3 linked regions of the Homo sapiens genome follow. The protein of the gene in region 1 interacts with the protein of each later gene in a pairwise test. Each region holds a gene or a part of one and is shown on either strand. Other genes may lie near its edges.

The links. The genes of interacting proteins can lie anywhere in the genome.
Region 2: the proteins of ZNF688 (region 1) and DEF6 interact in binary tests that used the Homo sapiens proteins (3 or more experiments, as listed by UniProt).
Region 3: the proteins of ZNF688 (region 1) and LMO2 interact in binary tests that used the Homo sapiens proteins (3 or more experiments, as listed by UniProt).

What each region holds. Positions count from the first base shown.
Region 1 is NC_000016.10:30,569,151-30,575,844, forward strand, and holds ZNF688 (zinc finger protein 688), read right to left. Parts: upstream 2,565-6,694; 5' UTR 2,480-2,564; coding exon 2,284-2,479; intron 2,278-2,283; exon of another isoform or gene 2,075-2,277; intron 1,974-2,074; coding exon 1,860-1,973; intron 1,287-1,859; coding exon 766-1,286; 3' UTR 576-765; downstream 1-575. UniProt on the Homo sapiens protein: May be involved in transcriptional regulation.
Region 2 is NC_000006.12:35,293,420-35,300,817, reverse strand, and holds the start of DEF6 (differentially expressed in FDCP 6 homolog), read right to left. Parts: upstream 3,001-7,398; 5' UTR 2,962-3,000; coding exon 2,866-2,961; intron 1-2,865. Other genes in the region: ZNF76 (zinc finger protein 76), read right to left, coding at 5,907-6,038, 6,249-6,362, 6,903-7,067.
Region 3 is NC_000011.10:33,858,076-33,861,076, reverse strand, and holds the end of LMO2 (rhombotin-2), read left to right. Parts: intron 1-1,501; coding exon 1,502-1,721; 3' UTR 1,722-2,501; downstream 2,502-3,001. UniProt on the Homo sapiens protein: Acts with TAL1/SCL to regulate red blood cell development. Also acts with LDB1 to maintain erythroid precursors in an immature state.

The DNA.
Region 1 (6,694 bases):
CCCAGACTGTAGTACAGTGGCACAATCATAGCTCACTGTAGCCTTGAACTCCTGGGCTCAAGCAGTCCTCCCACCTCAGCCTCCCAAGTGGCTGGGACCACAGGCACGATGTGCCACTATGCCTGGTTCATTTTTTTTTTTTTTTTTTGTAGAGATAGGATTTCACTATCTCTAGATAGTGATATCCTAGATATCTAGATATCGCTAGATAGCCTGTTGCTCAGGCTGGTCTGAACTCCTGGACTCAAACGATCCTCCCTCCTTGGTCTCCCAACAGAGGCTGGATTTGTGCCACCTGCATCTATTCTACTCCCATCCACTCCAGTGTCTGGGTCCCCTGCTGATGACAATTAGCCAGGGTTTGACCACGCCCTCCATGTAGGTCCCCTCCCCAGGCCCTGGTCCCCCTCAGCATCTGCATCTGAAATAGATAAGGAGTGGCTAGTTCCTGAGATGATATAAAGGTCTCTGTTGCACCTGATCTTCAGATAACACTTTGAAATGAGTCCAGGGTCTCACTCTCTTCTTTTTTTTTTTTTTTTTTTTTTTTTTTGTTAAACAAAAGACTGGGGAGATGGGTGGCAAGTCTAATCTATTCGAATCTTTACAGGCACTTTTCTTTTTACAAGTTGGAAACTTGAGGGATCCTTGAGGAAAGCCCAGGGCATGAATTTCAGTTCCGGAGTCCCCGACTCAGTGGCCCACCTCAGGGATCCGTCAGTCCTTCGTGCCAAGGTCAGGCTCAACTCCAGCCTGCGGTGCCGCTCAGCCGCACTCCTCGAAGATGTCTGGGTAGTGCCGGAAGAGCACAGGCGGGTCCCGGTCACCTCGGACGGGGGCCCGAGGCACAGCCCGGATCCCAGGCCTCCGGCCCCGCCGCCCCCCGGAGCAGGAGCGGTGGATCCACTGGTGCGCTTCCACTGCGAACTTCCTCTTGAAGCGCATGCCACACTCGGGGCAGGGGAAAGGCCGCTCCCCCGAGTGCATGCGCCTGTGGCTGACCAGCAGTGAGGGGTAGGTGAAGCGGCGGCCGCAGTCCGTGCACACGTGGCGCCGCTGGCCGGCCTGAGCATCCATGCTGGGTATGGGTGCCGGGGGCTGTGCTCCTGTGGTCGGGTCCCAGGCAGCATTTTTGGGTGGCTGTGCCCGTGCCGGGGCCACGCTAATAGCTGGGTCAGGGTTGCGTTCCACCAGCACTTCAGGACTCTCCTTCACAGGAGCCTTTCTAGGCCCTTTGGCTCTTGGGACTTCCTCCGGTTCCTCTTCCTTCCTGTTTGGGACATCTCCTGGGAAACCGGAATTAAGTTACACTTACAAACACTTTTGCACAGACTGTCTCAGGTTATAGAATGCTTTTCACTTAAGGCAGTGAGGGAAGTTCTGTCCAGTGATTAACACACAGGCTTTAGAACAAGGTAAACAGGATTCAGATCTCCTAAAAGTGCCTTATCTGAGCCTTGGTTCCTTATGCATCAAATGGGAATAATAATGGCTTTTGACTTCACAGCGTTACTGGTTTAGCTGAGTAGATGCATGTTAAGCACTTAGGAAGTGCTCAGGAAGCAGGGGCTATTATTTATTTATTTATTTATTTATTTATTTATTTATTTATTTATTTTTGAGACGGAGTCTCACTCTGTCACCCAGGCTGGAGTGCCTGGTTGGACTGGGCTCCCAGTCCTCACAGGACCGCTGTCCCATGTTCTGAAAACTTTGTACCAGGTCTGCCTTCTTTACTCCTCTAGTACCCAACACAGTTGAATTTCTTTAGGGATGCTGGAAGTGGGGGCCTGAAAAGAAACTCTGCTAGACAGGAAGCCCTGGAAAACCAAGTGGGGGGACCCGGGACTATCCCTCACCTCTCCGAGCTCCTCCCAGTCTTTCCCCCTTCTCAGGATCCTGGGCGGCGGGGCTCCAAGCCTCACTCTCCTGTTCCATCCAAGAGATGAGGGCTGGTTTGGGGCCTGGGAATCCTGGGAGAGAACAGGGATCACAGCGCGGGCCTGAGAGGCCATCGTGGGAAGATGGCATTCCCCTCCAGGCTGAGGGCACCCCCTCGGAGCTTATACTCAACCTGGAAGGGGCTGCAGTGCTGCTGCCTGAATGAAATGGATGCGGGTGAAAACACTCCCGAGGGGGTACCTGAAGCCCTGGGAACGGGAGGTGGCTGCTGGTGTTGGTGCAAGAGTGCGGGATTAGGGCTCACAGTCCTCTCGGCCCTTCTACATCATCTCCCCTGTGAACCCGGTGAAGGAGGAGGGGGCTCGGACCCGGGGCTCTCACCGAGCGCGCCCAGGTGGCCGTAGGTCTCCTGCATCACGTCCCGGTACAGAGCCCTCTGCGCGGGCCGCAGACAGCCCCACTCCTCCGGGGAGAAGTACACGGCCACGTCCGCGAAGCTCACAGTCCCGGGCTTCCTGCAACCAGGCCGGGTCTCCCCGGGCCTCGGCGCCAGGAGCGGGGCTGGGGGCGGCGCCATGGGGCCTCGCAGCCCCGATCGGCGGCCGCCAGGTCCCTGGAGCCGCCGCCTCCCCGCTCCCGGCCTCAGCTGTCGTTGTCCACAGGAAGGGCGGCCCCGCCCAGCCGTGGCGTCCGAACGCAGCCGAGGCAACCGAAGTAGCAGGGACTGGCTGCTAGGGATTCGAGGATTCTGATAGGGACAAATATAATTCCTCAGTGTTTATTCACTTCATGGCCGCTTGGACATAGACACCCGGGTTAAGGGACCCGGAAGGTGCCTTCTGAAAATATGGCGACCACCCTTCAATTGTCACAGGCTGCTCTTAAGGGCGCCATTATTTGACCATATCAAATATGGAGCCTTTCTGACTTCTCTGGCCTCATCGTCCCACTTGCCCTTAAATAAAGCCGCTTCGGCTGCTTTTTCTAGTGGGGGAGGCGGGGTGTCTGGGAAGTAGAGGAGAGGCTTCTTGCCTTCAAGAAAGATGTAAGGGCCCGAAGCTTCACTTACCCCTCTGTACCCGCAATACGCAACGGCCGATGATTGGCGACGATCCCGGAAGAAGCTGCGCGGTGATTGGCCTGGGACTGGCGGGGCATTTGAAGGGACCCCGCGGTCCTGAAGCCTCTGTTGACAGACTGGAGCGCAGCGGAGACCTCGGCATCTGCGGTGCTCGGGATTGTGTCCCCTACGGTCTCTTACCGTGCCTCCCGATGGCGGGAGCTGGAATTTGGTCCCCAGACCCCTTGGGAAGACGCGCACACCCTGGCAAACCATGTGTACACCCGCGGTAGAAGCAGGTGCGTGTTTTACAGTAGCTTAGCTGCGGAGTCCACCCAGCCCCTGGCATCCGCAGCTCGGCTCGCTCAGGCTCTAGACCGAAGCTGCAGGCGAAGGAACGTGCTTGGTGAGGATGGAATCGGAATGGGGAAGTTTTAAATTAAATAGTAATTGTTGCTAACATACATGAATTTATTTTTTGTTTGTTTTGAGACAGGGTCTTGCTCTGTGGCCCAGCAGTGCGATCCTAGCTCACTGCAGACTCGACCTCCCGGGCTGAAGCGATCTTCTCACCTCAGCCTCCCGAGTAGCTGGGACCACAGGCGCACACCCAATGCTTGGCTAATTTTTAAATTTTAAAACAGAGACAGGGTCTTGCTATGTTGCCCAGGCTGGTCTGGAACTCCTGGCCTCAAGCAATTCTCCTGCCTCGGCCTCCCAAAGTGCTGTGATTACAGGCATGCGCCACGGTTCCCAGCCATTTCTACTTTTTCTTTGAGAAGGAGTTTTACTCTTGTTGCCCAGGCTGGAGTGCAATGGCGCTATCTCGGCTTGCCCAGGCTGGAGTGCAATGGCGCTATCTAGGCTCACCGCAACCTTCGCCTCCCAGGTTCAAGCGATTCTCCTGCCTCAGCCTCCCAAGTAGCTGGGATTACAGGCATGAGCCACCATGCCCGTCTAATTTTGTATTTTTAGTAGAGACGGGGTTTCTCCATATTAAGTCAGGCTGGTCTCGAACTCCCGACCTCAGGTGATCCTCCCGCCTCAGCCTCCCAAAGTGCTGGGATTACAGGCGTGAGCCACGGCGCCCGGCCCTGCCATTTCTACTTATTTACGTTGTTCCAAATTATCAAAGATAGCATCAACTTTCAAATCCTAATTTTTTTTTTCCTGGGAAACCTTCCTCCTTTAGCCTTCAGTCTCCTCTCTAAACTGGGTTGGGCCTCAGTTCTTCTCATACCGGGTCTCCCCTTCCTGCTGTCCTGGGTTGTATCTTCCGCTTCCTAGATTTAAGGTCTTTATTTTTCAGCCAAGATGGGTCATCCTCATGGCTGGTGGCATTGGACTGTAAATACTAGTTGCCTTCATCCCCACATTTGGAATATACCTGCAATCATACAGGATGCAGAATACTGTTTGCTAAGCGTGGGGCTGGTTGCTGGAGATAACAAGCAAGGCCTACCAGGTCCCTGCTGTCATTCTGGCTCTGGATCTACTTGCTTGGCTCCCCTGCCAGCCCTAGTATATCGAGCCTTCCTTTTTATTCAATAGTGTTTTTTATTGCTGACTTTTCAGTCAAGATTTCTTTGTGTTTTCTGGCCTACCCTTGCTGTTTTTCACCTGAAATGCTTTTTGGCTTTTAGTGTGACTCCTGCTGATCTCATATGCATATGTTATTAATTGATTAATTATTAATTGTTAATAATTAAATATTATTAATATGCTTACATTATTACCTTGAGTTCTGGAACTGCCTCACTGCACTCCATGTGGTGAATACTGTAGAAATTATATAAGGAAAAATATATCCTTAGAAATGAGTATTTTTTAAATTTTGAAAATATTTAATTTAGGCCCAGCCCAGTTGCTCACACCTGTAATCTCAGCACTTTGGGAGGCTGAGGTGGGCAGATTGCTTTAGGCCAGAAGTTAGAAACCAGCATGGGCAACATGCTGAAACTCCATCTCTACTAAAAATACAAAAATTGGCCAGGTCTGGTGGTGCACACCTGTAGTCCCAGCTACTCAGGAGGCTGAGGCACAAGAATTCCTTGAACCCAGGAAGCAGAGGTTGCAGTGAGCAAGATCATGCCACTGCACTTCAACCTGCGTGACAGAGTGAGACCCCGTCTCAAAAAGAAAAAAAAATTGGGCTGGGCACAGTGGCTTGTGCCTGTAATCCCAACACTTTGGGAGGCCAAGGCGGGAGGATCACCTGAGGTCAGGAGTTCGAGACCAGCCTGGCCAACATGGCAAAACCCCGTCTGTACTAAAAATACAAAAATTAGCTGGGTGTGGAGTCGGACGCCTGTAGTCCCAGCTACTCAGGAGGCTGAGGCACAAGAATGGCTTGAACTCAGGAGGCAGAGGTTGCAGTGAGCCAAGATCACACCATTGCACTCCAGCCTGTGTGACAGAGCAAGACTCCATCTAAAAAAAAAAAAAACAAACAAAACAAAAAATATATTGATACACAAAATTTTTACATATTTATGGAGTTCATGTGATATTTTGCTTTTCTTCATACATAGAATGTACAATAATCAAGTCAGGATATTTAAGGTATCAATCACTTTGAGTATTTAACATTTCTATGTGTTGGGAAAATTTCAAGTCCTCTCTTCTAGCTATGGAAATTTACAGTACTTTGTTAACTACAGTCACCCTACTCTGCTATTGAACATTACAAGTTATCCCTTCTTCCTAAGTGTATGTTTGTACCCATTACCCAACTTCTCTTCATCCACCTCTCCCACCCACGTACACCCTTCCAATCTCTGGTATCATTCTACTCTCTACCTCCATGAGATCAACTTTTCTAGCTCCCACATGTAAGTGAGGACATGTGATATTTGCCTTTCTGTGTCTGGCTTATTCACTTAACATAATGACCTCCAGTTCCATCCATGCTGTAAACATGATTTCATTTTTTATGGCTTAAGTCCACTGTGTATATATATCATATTTTCTTTATTCATTTGTCCCCTGATCAACACTTAGGTTGATTCCATATCTTTGCTATTGTAAACACGGCTCTACAGTAAACACGGAGATGCAGGTTATCTTTTTTATATACTGATTTCTTTTCCTTTGGATAAATTCCAGGTAGTGGGATTGCTGGATCACATGGTAGTTCTTTTTTTTTTTTTTTGAGACGGAGTTTTGCTTTTGTTGTCTAGGTTGGAGTGCAATGCCCTGGTCTCGGCTCATTGCAGCCTCTGCCTCCCAGGTTCAAGTGATTTTCCTGCCTCAGCCTCACAAGTAGCTGGGATTACAGGCACCCTCCATCACACCCAGCTAAATTTTGTATTTTTAGTAGAGAAGGGGTTTTGCCATGTTGGCTAGGCTATTGTGAACTTCTGACCTCTGGTGATCGACCAGCCTTGGCCTCCCAAAGTGCTGGGATTACAGGTGTGAGTCACCATGCCCAGCCCACATGGTAGTTCTGTTTTTGTTTTTTTCAGACATCTCCATATTGTTTTCAGTAGTGGCTGTACTAACTTACGTTCCCACCAACAGTGTGTAGGAGTTCCCTTCTCTTTTTTTTTCTTTTTTTTTTTGGAGAAGGAGTTTCACTCTTGTTGCCCAGGCTGGAGTGCAATGGCACAATCTTGGCTCACCACAACTTCTGCCACCAGGGTTCAAGCGATTCTCCTGCCTCAGCCTCCCAAGTAGCTGGGATTACAGGCGCGTGCCACCACTCCTGACTAATTTTGCATTTTTAGTAGAGAT
Region 2 (7,398 bases), on another chromosome or scaffold:
GCTCCCCTCTCTATAGCCCTCTGTCAGGATGGCTACCTTCCAAAGGTTTTTAGAGGCGGTTCTGGGAACCTTGCAAGAACTCACAGCCCTCAACTCCTGGGAAGTTTTGTGTTCAACCTAAATCCATCCTGGGCAGGAGTGCCATTCCTATTGGTTTACTTTCTCTGTTCTCAACCCAACTGGATGAAGCCATTGTACTTTCTACAAGAATTCAAAGAGAGAAAGAAGTATCTGGTTTTTCCCTCAAGCCTTCTCTTTTCCAGGAGAAACAACCCTACTCCTTGGGCTTTTCTCAGAGGACGTGCTGTTCTTCCTCCTACCCTCTGGCCTCATCGTGGGTTTGCCCAGGACAGCCACTGGGAGCCCGTCTACCAACACATTAGGGGAGAAGTGGCAAATGTCACGCACCGACACATCTTGCCCTGGGCTAGTGCAGGTCTCTTGCCAGGTTCCAACCCAGGACCCTAACGCTAGGGATGGTTTTAGTAACCAGCCCAGTGAGGTGGCTCAAGACTATAATTCCAGCTACTCAGGAGGCAGAAGCCAGAGGATCACTTGAGGCCAGAAGTCTGAAACCAGCCGGGGCAACATAATGAGACTCAGGCTCTAAAAAATAAAAAATAAAAAAATTAGCCAGGCGTGGTGGCATGTGCCTGTAGTCCCAGCTACTCAGGAGGCTGAAGTAGGAAGATCGCTTGAACCCAGGAGTTTGAGGCTGTCGTGAGCTATGACTGCACCACTGCACTCCAGCATGAGTGATAGAACAAGATCTCATCTCTAAAACAACAACAAAAAACCAGATTGACTCCAAGGTCTTTTCCCTCATCCCCAAGTCTTTTCTGGGGAGAGGTGGGCCCTGCTTGTATAACTCTCTCGTCTGCTTCCTCCTTTGCCTTTTGACCACTTCTCTATTACTCCTTTGCTTTGCTGGAATCCCCGCCCCCCAACACTATCACTACTTCCTCCTCTTCCAATATTCACTATTATGGGCTTGAAAGGAGCCCCGCCATTTCCGCCCCACCCCCACTTGGCCCCTGAGACTCCCACTGTTAGCCCAGGTTTCCAGAGTTGACAAGTTTTCTGTCAAGTAGGAGGGAACTCTATAATTGATCCTGTGTGACCAGAGATGTTGCTGGCAGTAGGTTCAATATGAGCTGTGATGAGGTACAGACAGTGGACAGTTCAAGCATGCAAGCTCTCCATGGAGTATTTCCCTAGAAATACGCAACCTGTGGGGATGAGGGAGTGGGTAGTGGCCCTTTTAGAGGGCAAGACAGAGGCTCAAGCTAGGAGGCTTTACTGGCTGATGGCACCAGGAAAAGGGGAGCCACTTAAAGGCTGTACTTTCCATGTGAAGGGCAGAGAGAGCCTGGAGAGGTCTCAGTGGCCACAGGTAATACAGAAGTGGAAAATGTTACCCTGGAAGCAAAAAGCCACGGGGGCTGGTATTGTCTGGCAAGATATTAAAGGGACAGGGTGGGAGGTAGGGGTGGGACACAGAGTTTGCAGAAATGGATTTTGGATGATCGACTTTTTTCCATTTATACTGAGGACCCAACCAAATGACATGATCTGCAATACAAGAGATTTAAATAGGATGTAAGGAAGAATCTGCCTGTTAGGAGGTTCTCCCTAGGTGACAAAAGATAGTAGTGGGCTCTCCTTCCTGGGGGAGTGAAATCATCTATTAGATGCTCACAAATCCAGGTAAGGAATTTAACATAGGACCAGTTTGGGATATTCAAGTTCCTCACATCCAAGTTCAGTAAAGTAGGGGGTTGGAACGGTGGTGGGGCACAATAACTGTTCTGTCCCATTCATCTCTCAGGTATCCAGCACCCTCTACCTCGGTCATTAAGAATGGAGGTTTCCTTGAGACCACACGTCTCCTTTGGAGGATGGGGCAGGGAGACACCAGTTTAGTGCCTAGCCACATGCCAGGCACAGAGCCTCACGAGGGGCACTCAAGTACTTGCAGAGTGAACGAAGGCACCCCTATGGCAGGTCCTAGAGAGCTGAGGCCTACCTTGCTCCTTTCCCCCAGTGTTCGCTGATTCTAGTGGCTGAGGGCCTTGCTTCCTCCCCACTAACTAGGGTAGGGAAGGCAGCACTACTGGAGGACTAGAGGAAGAGAGAGAAAAACTCCTTGGCCTCCCAGAAATTGTCTAGGCCAGATGATTGACTTCAGGACAATCATTGATTGGGATTTTCCTGGGCTTAGATTCTCCCCCTTCCCTACCTGAGGTCTCAAGGCCTAAGGTAAGTTTCCCAACCTGATATGTGTGGTGGATAGGGGGGTGAGCTGCGTAGCAGTATAATAGGGTCCTCAGTCCTCACCCACTCCGCAGCTCTGTCCCACCTGGCGGGCAGGGTTAGACAGGCCAGACAGGTTTGGGACTGGGGGCGGCCCCTTTATGCCTCTCTCAGCTCCAGAGGAAATGACTGCCAAGCACTGGCTAACTGTTTCTCTTGAAAGTCAGGAGGAAGCAGCAAGAAAGAGCACACTGCGTGCCCAAGCATGACTCTGTGGAGGTGTGTGTGCTCATCACACAGAGTCTGGGATGTGGCCTGGCTCCTGGCCCTCAGAACCCCATAATGGCCCTCAGAACCTCCTGGCCTCCAGTTGTGGGGCCCAGTTCTGCGCAAGGTTTCTGCACACACTTCACTAGGTCTCTGGAGGGTGGGCAGCGGCATCTACCAGGCTACGTTGGCCCAGTTACCCAGGACCAGCCCCCCGACCCCAGGCCCGGGACGCTGGATGGCTGGGTGCCCCTGGAGTGGCACAGTGTCCACACCTGGCTCCCAGGCGGCAGGGGCTGGTGTGGTGCATCTGCCGTCCTCCCCCGGGTCCCGGGTGCCCCTCACCTTGAGCTGGGACTTGGAGACTTTGCCACTCTTCTCCACGTCCAGCGCGGTAAAGGCGTACCAGATGGACTTGAGCAGTTCCTTGCGCAGGGCCATGGCTGAGGCGCCCGCCCGGCTGGGGGCGGCTCTGACACTAAGATCCGGTTTCAGGAAATGCAAACGGCTGCAGAGACCGCAGAGGTGCCGTGGTGGAGCGAGAGCACCACCTGCCTGCACATTGCGTGAGGCTCTGTGCTGTCGAGAACCCTGCCTGTTGTTCTGGCAGTGCTCAGAGGCTCCACTCCCTGCATGGGAACTGGGGACCAACTCTCCGAGAGCGGGAACCCTCGTTCTGTATCCACGTGGCTCCCGGGGCATGTGAGGCCCTTTTAGAAGCCTCCTCAGACCCGGAGGCTTCTGGAGCCTTCCAGGGCTCCCAGACGCAGCTTGCTGAGGGAAAAAGCAAGCTCATCCTGATATTGGGGTCAGACAGAGTAAAGGTCCAGTCCTAGTTCAACATAGGAGGCCTTGGGTAAGTTACTTAACCTCCTTGAGCAGTTTCCTCATTTGTAAAGCAGGAAAAATGCCTCCGTGTTGTAAGAATGTCTGAGAATGGACGTAAAGCACATAGTAGGCTCTGGGTAGAGCTTTTGGTGCTACTTAACATTACCATGGTGGTGGGACTCCATCCAAGTGGAAGGAAACAAAGGCAACATCACAAAGCTGGAGAAGGAAATGGGCCAGGGCACCTCTCCAGGTCAGGATGTGGCACTTGACTTGCTGGCTCCCTATCCCCTCAGCACTGGCTCTAAACGGTACTCAGAGCACTGCCCACTCTAGCCCCAGTAGCCCTGAAGACACTGGAAACTTCCTGAAACACATGGGGGTGAGCCTTGTGGTGCACCTCAACTTTAAGGGTCCCAGCAGCAGCAGGCTTGGGATTCAGGGCCCTCCATGTCAGTGCTTCCTTTCTTCAGATCCAGTGTCCAAAAGGACTGGGACACGCCCACACCAGGAATGGTGGTCACAGATGTTGAAGACATCTGCTCAGGCCAATTCTAAGACACCTCCCCCTACCCCCTAAGCCAAATAAAAATCCCTCCAAGTAAGGTGCTGGGAATACCTCCTGCCTGGAAGCACGCCCCCGCCCCTCTCTTCCCAAGGAGCTGGTGGCAAGAGTAAATGGGAGCTTTCTAGGCATCCTGGGAGAGGATGCCTGGATCAGAGGAGGGGGTTCCAATCCTAGGAGGCAGGAAGGGGTTGGGGCATATCCATCACAGCAGAGAGAGGAAAAGAGGCACCACCAATCCCTGCAATGTTCCTGTGTAGGCAGAGTCAAACCCAGAGCTTCTTCCCATCAAGTGCCTTCCCCTGTATCCCTTCTTCCCCCTGGAGCTGATCTGGTCTCACCAACTCACTTTTCAGTGGGGTCTGATTGTGGCTTTGAAATCCCACAGCACAGTCCTAGGCACCTAGGTGGGCACCCCCAGAGCTGGGTAATAGAGCCAAGACTTCAGCTCCAGAGGCATCAGACTCTGCTCCTTGAATCTCAGTAACCTTGGCAAAGGTGTCCCCCAGCCTCACTCTAACCTGGGGCTTTGCCCTCTTGGAGAAGCTGACTGTGTGATTTGGGGGTGGCTGGGTTGGAGGGGCTCTGACTACGTTTCACAAGAAAAGGCAGGAAAAGAGTTCCCCCAGCTCAATCACATGAGGCCTGAGATTCAGCCAGAGCCTGGAAGCAGCGGTCACCCTGGTCCTGTTTGGCTACCCTGGAGCCCACCTGCTCAGCTGTGGGCAAGAAGCCACCAGCAGCTCCTCAGGGCTTTATCTTATACTGGGCTTCCTTCCCACCTGTGTCCCTGGCAGGCCAGCCCCACCACTCTGGCACCAAGGCTGAGTGGGGTTTGTGCCAGGGAGACAGGGCTGATAGCCTGATTTGACCAACCCTGCCACCCGGGCCTAGAGCTGAAAGGATGGAGGGACCCAGGTGGAAATTTGGAACTTTTATTAAATACTCATTCATCCATGTGCCACCACCACCCAGAGCAGGAAAAAAATTATCAAAATGGAATTAAAAAAAACAAAACAAATCAAACCCAATCCCCAGCAGTCTATGTACAGGGCCACTCCCTGCCTCTCTGCCATAGAGAGGTTGGGGGGCAGCTGAGGAGTGGTGGGGGCTGGGCACCTTTTCTTCAGCCACAGGCCCCTGAGGAATTAATTGACTGTGGTGTCAGGAAGTCCCTGGTGCCAAGTAGCCAGGCATCTCAGCTGGCCTCCAGGGAGGTGGTTATTGCTGGGAGGGCAGGACAGGGCCTGCTCCACTGCTACTGGGCTGAAGAGCTGTCTGTGGCTCAACCCTACAGGGCCAGTCCCCATAGCAGCCCCAATCTCTACCTGAGAAGGGGAACAGACTGAGGGCCAGAAGGGTGTTCTTTAGGAGGAGAGTGGGCGCCCAGCTGATTTTGAGAGGCGGGTGCCCTGGTGTAGCCTGGCTGTTGTCAGCTCCCGAGGATGATGCACTCCCCTGATTCCAGCTGCCTGGCCCCCTTCTTGAGCAGGGCCCCCATTCCCTTCAGTTAGGCAGTTTTCTTGCTGTCTTCTCACCCCAGAGACCTATGTGGCCACCTTCTATGTGTCAGCCACAGCCTGGGCCCTTGGGGGCAAGAGTGGCCATGCAGATGGCACTTCCTCCAGCATGGTGTGGGACCCAGCCCTCTTGGACTCAGCAGCCACTCTCCGACACTGTTGTCTCCAGGGTCACAGCCCCTTGCTGCATGGCCGCAGTGGCCACATTGATGGCCTCCTCTAAGGTCTGCTGTTCCTCCAGCTGTGGGGAAGGGGGTGCAGAAGGAAGGAGACAGTGAGACCCTCCCTGCTAGATTCCAGTGTTAGTAATATGTGGCCTACTTTTTTTTTTGACTCTCCCCCATCTACCCAGTGCCACACGCTGAGCACTTAGTAGGGCTCCAATAAACATGAAGTTCACGGATGAAGAGTCCTATTAGGCTAGGCATGGCCAGGGGGCCCTGGAATAGCCAGGGTCAGAGAGACCCACTTGCTCACGGAGGAAGGACTGGCTGAAGAGAACCGTGGTGATCATCTACGTCAGCCTCCTTCATTTCCAGATGAAGAAACAGAGACACAAAATGATGAAGGGCTTGGACCACAGGTGGACTGCCATCGGAGTTATCCTGAAGGCCAGAAGAGGCTTCAACATTCTGCCTCAGCCAAGAGCGAGCCTGAGACAGATGCATGGATGCAGGAGGAAAGGGATCTGTCCTCTGAAATGGGCTCTTTTTGAGTCAGATGCCCTTCTCTTCAAGATCCTCATCTAATTCCCCTTTATTCCTTGTTGACTTCTCTGGCCGTGGGATCCCCTTTCCTCCCAGATCTCTACTCACCTGCACTGCAATGTGCGTTCCGTTGGCTGTGGCCAACAGTGCCACCTGTTGATGACGAAGAGATGCTACACTTGAGTCCTCAGCCACCACAGCCCCAGAGGTAATGATTGTGACCTGAAAGACAAAAGGAGGTCTTCCATTCCACCTGCAGTATACTCTCCCTCCCCACAATCCAAATAAACATCCCTCCAATTAAGGTGCTGGGAACAACCCAGAAGAGAATGGATAAAACCGTATGGGTCAGATTAATTAGCCTGAGGCTCAGAGCTAAGTAAGGCTGGGTTTCCTCCCAACTTAGAGCCCAATTTAATTTAGGGATTTTGAATCACAGAAGGACAGAGCTGTAAAAAATTCCAGAGATATTTTAATCCCCTCACTTGAAAATGGACAGAAGTCCATGGAAAAGTGATTTGCCTAAGGTTGCACAACAAATCAGGGTTGAATTGAGATTTAGAAAGTGTCTCTTGACCTCCATTCAACTGCTTTTAAAGGTAAGAGCTGCTCATGGCCCAGGAACTGTGGGGAAGACCCCTTCTTTTGTGGGGAATCTTTGTCCTGGTAAGAAGACTTGACTAGTTTAGGCTGCACTTTAATGCCCGCCCCATGGAAAGGAATGACAAAATAAGAAACCCCAAGCAAACCGCCTGGTCATACGGGCTGCGTCTGGGTGCCATCGGCGCTGACCATGGTGACTGTATGTGTGCCAGATGTGGCCAGGTCGGCATCAGGACTGGGGATGGTGAGGGTGGTGCTGCCGTGCTGGGTGACCATACTGATGGCACTCCCCAGGGCCTGCAGGTCTTCCGGGGACAGGCTGACCTGCCAACAGGAGGGGAAGATGAGCTGGCAGTGTCAGTGGAGGGTTGTCTGAAAGTCCCTAAGGAAGATATACCTGCTCTCCCAGACAAGGTCAGCTTATTAGTTTCATGTCATAGTGGTGGAAGGGATGGGTGACAGGCAAACAAAATGGGTCCAAGGTTGCAAAGAGAGGCCACACTAGAAGAATTCCACTGACTACTTCTATTTATCACCACTTTGCCTCTGGGCCCTGTTGTATCCAGCTCAGGGTCGCCACCTGATTGTGTCCTAACAACTCTAGAAAGCACAGATGTACTTTCTAGCAAGGGTACGGACAAGGGTCAGGTTATAT
Region 3 (3,001 bases), on another chromosome or scaffold:
TAACAGCTGAGTGAGGTGGAGCCTATGATGGCTGCCATTTCACTGAGGCTCAGAGAATCAGAGGTCTCTCCAGGGTCACTCAGGGCTGGTCCGGGACATTGAAGCTGGGTCTTCTCTGCTTCCGGTACTTGTGTTACTGCACTTTTGCTGTTGATTCTCAAATGTCAGCCTGCAACCAGTCCCCCGGAAGTGTTCATTAACGCACAGACTGCTGGGCCTTCTCCCCAGGGTGTCTCAGTTGGGTAGGGAAGGAGGAGGGCTGAGAATTTGTTTTTTTGTTTGTTTGTTTAGTTTTTGCTTTTCTTTTGAGTCAAGGTATGGCTCTGTGGCCCAGGCTGGAGTGCAGTGGCATGATCTCGGCTCACTGCAACCTCCACCTCCCGGGCTAAAGCCATCCTCCCACCTCAGCCTCCCAAGTATTAATAGCTGAGACTAGAGGCATGCACCACCGCACCCGGCTAATTTTTGTATTTTTTGTAAAGACACAGTTTCACCATGTTGCCCAGGGTGGTCTCGAACTTGTGAGCTCAAGTGATTTGCCTGCCTCAGCCTCCCAAAGTGTTGGGATTACAGGTGTGAGCCACTGCGCCCAGCCTGAGAATTTGTATTTCTGTCAGGTTCCCAGGCAGTGCTGATGTCGCTGGTCCCAGGACCAACACTTTGAGAACCACTGCACTGAGCCCTGCCATGTTCTGTCTCCCACCTTGACACTGAATACTGCCTGAAATAAGTGACTGATCAACTGAGGCTTGGGAGAGTCTTGATTTAAATGTCAGAAAAGAAGTTTCCCTTTTGATTCATGCCAGTGGGCAGCGAGGGCCATGAATTAAGATCCTCCCTTCATGGTGGAGAGATGCTGTTGGTCCTCCATATCTCAGAGGCACGATTAGCTGCACCGCGTGTTTTCTGTGGAACTCCCTGTCTCCCAGCAGCTGGGGCCCCAGCGAATAATCAGGGGGAGATGTGCTTTGCAGCTTATGGAGGTATTCAAGGCCAGCTCTCCCCATGGGTAGAATCAGTGGCTGTTGACATGATAGAGTTTGGGAGCCTCAGAAGAATGCCCGTTTTATTGCATTCCTGGTCAGTACCCTCTCAAAGGGGCCCCTAGGGTCTCTCTCCAGCTGCTCTTCTGAAATGAGGGTTCCCCTGGGAGGGGACAGGTAATACTTGCCTAACTCCTTATGATAGATCACATCAGCTGAGAGCCTTGCCCACAGAGGAGGAGCCAGGGGGCAGCCTAGGGGAATGATGAGCGGTTGCTGCAGACAAGGAGAGGGCTCAGAAAAGGGAGGAGTTATGCCAGATCCAAATGCCAGTTTCATCTGAGTTCCCTCTGCCTGCTGGTGAAGACTGCACTAGCCGGCCCTCCTTCTGGAGCCGACCTTCCCTGGCTTCCTGACATCCTGAAAGTTCGGCCTCCTTTCTAGGGCTCATCCCCGAGCCCTGTCTTCCAGGATTGTCCCTTTCACTGTCTTCTTAGCTTTTCTTTCTTTTGCCCCAGGCTTTTTGGGCAAGACGGTCTCTGCGCATCCTGTGACAAGCGGATTCGTGCCTATGAGATGACAATGCGGGTGAAAGACAAAGTGTATCACCTGGAATGTTTCAAATGCGCCGCCTGTCAGAAGCATTTCTGTGTAGGTGACAGATACCTCCTCATCAACTCTGACATAGTGTGCGAACAGGACATCTACGAGTGGACTAAGATCAATGGGATGATATAGGCCCGAGTCCCCGGGCATCTTTGGGGAGGTGTTCACTGAAGACGCCGTCTCCATGGCATCTTCGTCTTCACTCTTAGGCACTTTGGGGGTTTGAGGGTGGGGTAAGGGATTTCTTAGGGGATGGTAGACCTTTATTGGGTATCAAGACATAGCATCCAAGTGGCATAATTCAGGGGCTGACACTTCAAGGTGACAGAAGGACCAGCCCTTGAGGGAGAACTTATGGCCACAGCCCATCCATAGTAACTGACATGATTAGCAGAAGAAAGGAACATTTAGGGGCAAGCAGGCGCTGTGCTATCATGATGGAATTTCATATCTACAGATAGAGAGTTGTTGTGTACAGACTTGTTGTGACTTTGACGCTTGCGAACTAGAGATGTGCAATTGATTTCTTTTCTTCCTGGCTTTTTAACTCCCCTGTTTCAATCACTGTCCTCCACACAAGGGAAGGACAGAAAGGAGAGTGGCCATTCTTTTTTTCTTGGCCCCCTTCCCAAGGCCTTAAGCTTTGGACCCAAGGAAAACTGCATGGAGACGCATTTCGGTTGAGAATGGAAACCACAACTTTTAACCAAACAATTATTTAAAGCAATGCTGATGAATCACTGTTTTTAGACACCTTCATTTTGAGGGGAGGAGTTCCACAGATTGTTTCTATACAAATATAAATCTTAAAAAGTTGTTCAACTATTTTATTATCCTAGATTATATCAAAGTATTTGTCGTGTGTAGAAAAAAAAACAGCTCTGCAGGCTTAATAAAAATGACAGACTGAAATACAGTGTTGTTTATTTGATTACGACTTATAATTTGGGATGGCGGGGAAATGCTCTGCTTTTTCTTTTCTAAAGGAGAAGCAAATAAGCAATTTACTCTTAGGTCAAATAAAAACTTCTGTGTATTGCAAGGGTTTGTATGAGGCAGGCACATTTCTATATTACTGGCAATTATGTAACAGGTCATCATGTAGCTCAGAGGAATGTAGAATAATTAAATTGTTATTGTACAATATGCATTTCACTTCAGCATTGTATGGAGTGAGTGGAAGGCAAGATCATTGCCTTTGGGAAACTTGTAACCTAGAAAGGACACAAATACATAAAGCAGATTCCCTTTGGGAGAGAAGGTAATTACCTAGTTTGAAATGTGGCAAAGATGCTGAGCTTGACACTTCGATTTTCCAAGACGGGTGTCTCAGGGTGTTTTATGACAAGTGGTTAAGAGGACCTTTACTTTGCGGATTTAAAGCAGGCACCTTGGTTTGTGTGTTTGCCTTC